2 separate regions of the Homo sapiens genome follow, and region 2 is linked to region 1. The links come from fine-mapping of genetic effects on gene expression. Tissue or cell type: whole blood. Region 1 holds a variant in brackets; the other region holds the start of a gene. All regions are shown on one strand. Distances are from middle to middle.

Evidence for each region. PIP is the estimated chance that this variant, and not a neighbour inherited with it, causes the effect.
Region 2: it holds the start of SPACA6, and the variant in region 1 is fine-mapped to the expression of SPACA6 in whole blood (INTERVAL, PIP 0.96).

Annotation. Positions count from the first base shown.
Region 1 is chr19:51,138,359-51,141,116 of GRCh38, forward strand. It overlaps LOC124904749 (a long non-coding RNA gene), which reads right to left and starts at 2,152. Exons shown (of 3, transcript XR_007067310.1): 1 at 2,066-2,152; 2 at 427-468. The variant G/T (reference allele first, on the strand shown) is at 1,169.
Region 2 is chr19:51,691,703-51,694,328 of GRCh38, forward strand. SPACA6 (sperm acrosome associated 6) reads left to right here and starts at 1,628. Exons shown (of 9, transcript NM_001316972.2): 1 at 1,628-2,038. The coding sequence starts at 1,825. It overlaps SPACA6-AS1 (SPACA6 antisense RNA 1), which reads right to left and starts at 1,754. Exons shown (of 2, transcript NR_108100.1): 1 at 932-1,754. MIR99B (microRNA 99b) reads left to right here and starts at 910; the gene lies at 910-979. It overlaps MIRLET7E (microRNA let-7e), which reads left to right and starts at 1,084; the gene lies at 1,084-1,162. It also overlaps MIR125A.

The DNA of each region.
Region 1 (2,758 bases):
AGGAGGGCTCCCAGCCCCTGGTTCTCACCTAATCAAGGGGCGCTCATGGGCACTGGTTTTTCCTTCACCCGTGGCCTCACCTGGGGCTACTACTCCAGGTGAGCAGGGCTGCTCTTTTCTAGGGAAGCCGAGGGATTGGCCCCCGAGTTCCAGATGGGGCTGAGCTGTCCTGTCCCGCCTGAGTTAGAATTGAAGTGGCCGATGCTAATCTGAGGCCGGTGTTGGCTCTACAGGTGTGGAGGCCCCCAGGGGAGCAGGGCTGAGAGGCCTGACTGAGCCCCTCCTGCTCAAGACAGAACTCAGATGAGGACACCCAGCCCTGCGGGACAGATGCAGGACATCACTGTCAGCCATGGCTCAGCCCTTCTGACCACTGAGATGCTGCAACTTCCCCTCCTGGGAGGGAGCGATTGGGCAAACACTTACCCTTTGCTGGAAATCTCAAGGCACAGCACGGGTGCTCACAATCTGAATACAGAACGAATGAATGAATGAATGAATGAATGAATGAAATGTCTTTCCTTATCTCATGTGAGAGACTTGACAGTTCTTTCACTCTCCAAGTAACATCAGCTTCCCCTGTCCCAGCCCAGTCTGTCCTGGGCAGACAAGATTAATTAAGTGGCTCCTGGGCAGACATTGGTGCAGGAGACAGGGCCCAGGAGACCTGTGTGATTTGGGCAATTCGCTTTCTATCTCTGTCCATTCATGCTGCTACAACAAAATACCATAAACTGGCCAGTTTATAAACAACAGAAATTCATTTCTCACAGTTCTGGAGGCTGAGAAGTCCAAGACCAAGGTGCCAGCAGGTTTGGTGTCTGGAGACAGTTTGCTTCCTCATAGATGGTGCCTTTTCCTTATGTTCTCATGTGGTGGAAGGGCTGTGCAAATTCCCCTGGGTCTCTCAGATGAGGGGACTAATCCCATTAGACTAATCCCAGAGTCCTCATAGCCTAATCGCCTCCCAAATCATTATACCTTCTAATACTATCACATGGGGATTCAAATTTCAACAAATGAATTTTGAGGTGACATATTCAGACCATAGCACTTGTCACTGTGGACCTTGATGTCTTCCTCTCCGAACTGTGGAAGTGGGAGTAGAGGGCTTGTCAGCTCCCCTGGGTCATATGTGGTTCACAAGTTCCTCCTTTCTACAGATTCT[G/T]TGGCTTCCTTAAGTCTCTCCTTCCCATTTTTTTTTCTGATTTTAATTGCAAACTGGGGACTGTGGGAAAGAGATGGGCCATGGTCTAGCCCTTCTGAGGCAGGAGGAGCATAGACCAATGGGGCAGGAGCATAGCAAAGAGAATTAAAAGTTGGATAAAGGGCAGAATAAGTAAAAGCAGAGAGCAGAAGCAAGGTGAGGGGACGGGTGAGCAAGAAGCAAGAGGCAGAAGTTGAGCAGCCAAAACAAAAAGTAAGATAGAGAAGTGAGCAAGGACACCCGTGGCCAGCAGGATCTGGACCAAACCAGTAAGGGGCAGTTCTTCAGAGCTATGCATGTGCATTAGAGAGAAAAAGTATCCTTAACATGACCCTGTATGATAATCAGCTCATTAAAGTTCATGCATATGGACTGCATATTATCCATGTACTTAAAATTATGGGATGGGTCAAAGTAACTAAGCAACATACTTAACCATCAAAAAGGCAGGCACTGGCCAGGCGCGGTGGCTCACGCCTGTAATCCCAGCACTTTGGGAGGCCAAGGTGGGCGGATCACTTGAGGTCAGGAATTCAGGACCAGCCTGGCCAACCTGGTGAAACCCCATCTCTACTAAAAATACAAAAATTAGCCAGGCATGGTGGCGGGCGCCTGTAGTCCCAGCTACCAGGGAGGCAGAGGCAGAAGAATCGCTTCAACCCAAAAGGTTGAGGTTGCAGTGAGCCAAGATTGTGCCACTGCACTCAAGCTTGGGTGACTTCGTCCCCACCTCACCACCACCCCTTCCCCCCGAAAAAAGGCAGACACTGGATAGAGATTTGGCAGCCTTGGGAAGCGAAGAAAAACAAAAAAACAAACAAACAAACATAAAAAGACCCAAAGTAATGCTGATCTCACCTCATAGAGATCAGTTCGCTCTCCCTCTCCAAGAGTGTGATACTGTGCTTAATAAACTGCTGCTTCTTGCTTTGCTGTCTGTGTGTGTCTCATCCAATTCTTTGTTTAAGACACCAAGAGCCTGGAACTGCATGGCACCATCCGGTAACACTTCTGCCCACTGAGATACTGCAAATATCCTTATGGGGAGAGAGTGGCTGGGCAAGGAGGAGGCGCCCAGGAGGCAGATTGGTCTGCAGGATGAGATACTAGCTGCAAATGCAGGGATTGGAGGTGAGGGCGGGGAGTGGCTTCGGACGCCCAAACCCAGCATCTTCCTCTCTCAATCGTTACAGCCAAATGATCTCTAGGTTATGGACAATTAGGGGACAGTGTGGGCTGAGCAGATCAATGCAGTTGTATGGAAGAAAACAGACTGGGATTTTCTATGTATACAACATCTTCAGGAAAACCTACGTGAAGTTAGAATTTTCAAGGCAGCATGTGCCGATGATAAAACTACATAGAACAGCAGGAAGACTATTATCATTAAAGTGAGGCTAGGGGCTCCTTCAGGAGGGAGCGGGGGCATGGCCAATAGGAAAGGGGAATGTAAGGGTGAATGAATTAATAAAATCTCTTTCTTCATTTCAAGGGACAGACTTGACAGTTCTTTTGTGTTCTAGTTCTTCAAGGGTGCTTATTTTGTGTGAA
Region 2 (2,626 bases), 550 kb after region 1:
GAACCGGAAGGTGCGCCTGGAGCAGGGGCAGCGAGAACCAGACAGTCCAGGAGGAGGGGCTGGGCACGGGAGAGACCCCAGCTGGAGGGGCTCAGAGCCCAGGGGTGGGGAGGGTGGGTGCTGGGTCCCGGGGTCCAGAAGCTGGAGAAGGCTGGGGACACCTCCTGGATTCAAGAGGGAGGACAGAGATGGGGCTGGGCAGACTTTGGGAGCCTCTTCCCCTCTCTGAGGCTCAGCCCCCTCACCTGCCAAATGGGGATGCTGAGGGCACCTCGCTCTCTGGAGTGGGAGGTGTCAGGGAGAGGACTGGTGCTCAGGGCCTGGTATGGGGTCAGCGCTGGGAGATTGTGGCTGTCATAGTTGTAAATGACCCAAAGAAGGGAGGAGAGAGGAAAGAAAGCACCTAGGGAGGCTCTGATGGTTGGCTAGCCCCTGGCCTCCTTAGCCCTGGGCCTGGAGTCTCTGCAGACTGACAGGAGGGTAGGTAGGAAGCAGGTGTGCCCAAAGGGCCAAATTACGAGACAAATGAGGTTCCCTCCCAGCCGGCACCCAGGAAGCCAGGTTTTCTATCAGGCCATGCCTTCCCCAGGAGGCCTGCCTGGCCGGAGGGAGGAGGGGCTGGGGGCAGGGACTCCTGGGTCTCTGGGGAGAAGGAGGCTTTGGATCTGGACTCATGAGTCTGAGGGAGGAAGGGGCTGAGTCCTTGGATTCCAGGAACATTTGGGGAGAAAAGGGCCAGAGGCCTGGATTCCTGGGTCTGTGGTGAGGAAGGGCCTAGACTTCTGGGTTCTTTAGGGAGGAGGGGGATGAGAGCCTTGACTCCAGGGTCCCTGATGAGGAAGGGGCTGAGGGCCTGGACTCCTGGGTTCCTTGGGGAGGAGGGGCCGGGGGCCCGGACTCCTGGGTCCTGGCACCCACCCGTAGAACCGACCTTGCGGGGCCTTCGCCGCACACAAGCTCGTGTCTGTGGGTCCGTGTCGGGGGCTCACCATCGCGGCTGGGGCCTCCCCGGCCCTCCCCCTCATCCCTGGTCCTCCTGGTCCCTGTCTGTCTGTCTGTCGGGTCTGTCCACCTGCCGCGCCCCCCGGGCTGAGGTAGGAGGTTGTATAGTTGAGGAGGACACCCAAGGAGATCACTATACGGCCTCCTAGCTTTCCCCAGGCTGCGCCCTGCACGGGACGGGGCCCGGCGGGGACCCCCAGCCCCACTCAGGGACCCTTAGCCCCACTGGGCTGCCCCAGGGACCCTGGGAGGAAGAGCCGGGCTCTTTTCTGTCCTTGTCCCTGCATCCCCTCCTTCCCCTGAAATCTGTTTTCCTTCCCTGTCTGTCTCCATCTCTGCTGTGTCTCTGTGGCTTCTGTGTCTCTTTCACAGTGGATCCTCTGACTCCCTCTTATTCTGGCTTTCTAGGTCTCTGCCCCTCCCGATATCTCTCTGTGTCTCTATTTCTGTCGTTTTTGGTCTTTCTGTCTCTGGCTCTCAGAATGTCTCTGTGCCTATCTCCATCTCTGACCCCCACCCCAGGGTCTACCGGGCCACCGCACACCATGTTGCCAGTCTCTAGGTCCCTGAGACCCTTTAACCTGTGAGGACATCCAGGGTCACAGGTGAGGTTCTTGGGAGCCTGGCGTCTGGCCCAACCACACACCTGGGGAATTGCTGGCCTGACTTCTGACCCCTGACTCCTCATACCCTTCCTCCAGAGCATGACATTTGACCACCAACTGAAACCTGACCTCTGACCCCAGACCACTGGCCCTTCCCCCGCCCTGTGGTGACTTCATAAAGGTTACTAGCTTCTCCCCTGGCCTTGAGACCCACACGATGGCCCTGCTGGCTCTGGCCAGTGCCGTCCCGTCTGCCCTGCTGGCCCTGGCTGTCTTCAGGGTGCCCGCCTGGGCCTGTCTCCTCTGCTTCACAACCTACTCTGAGCGCCTCCGCATCTGCCAGATGTTTGTTGGGATGCGGAGCCCCAAGCTTGAAGAGTGTGAGGAGGCCTTCACGGCCGCCTTCCAGGGCCTCTCTGACACCGAAATCAGTGAGGAGACCATCCACACTTCATCAGTGTCCTGGGGAAGGTGCAGAGGGAGGGCAGGAGAGGCCCAGAGGGTCAGGCTGAGGGACAGACAGAGAGAAACAGTCAGAGGAGAAAGGCTCAAAGACCATGAGAACAACAGAGACTTAGGGACAGAGAGACACAGACAGGGGAAGACAGCAGGGCAAAGACTCAGAGAGGGGAGGATGGAGAGTCAGAGAGGGGAAGATGGAGACTCAGAGAGGGGGAGGATGGAGACTCAGAGAGAGAGGAAGATGGAGACTCGGAAAGATGGAGACTCAGGAGTATGGAGAGTCAGAGAGGGGAGGATGGACACTCGGGAGGATGGAGAGTCAGGAGGATGGAGACTCATAGAAAGGGGAGGATGGAGAGTCAGGAGAGGTTGGAGACTGGAGAGGGAATAGAGACCCAGAGAGGGGAGGATGGAGACTCAGAGGGTGGAAGATGGAGACTCAAAGAGGATGGAAACCCAGAGAGAGGAGGACAGAGATGAGGCAGAGACTAGGGGAAGCAGGATAGCGACTGGTCGGGGGCAGAGACTCAGGGAGGATAGAGACTTGGGAGGGACTC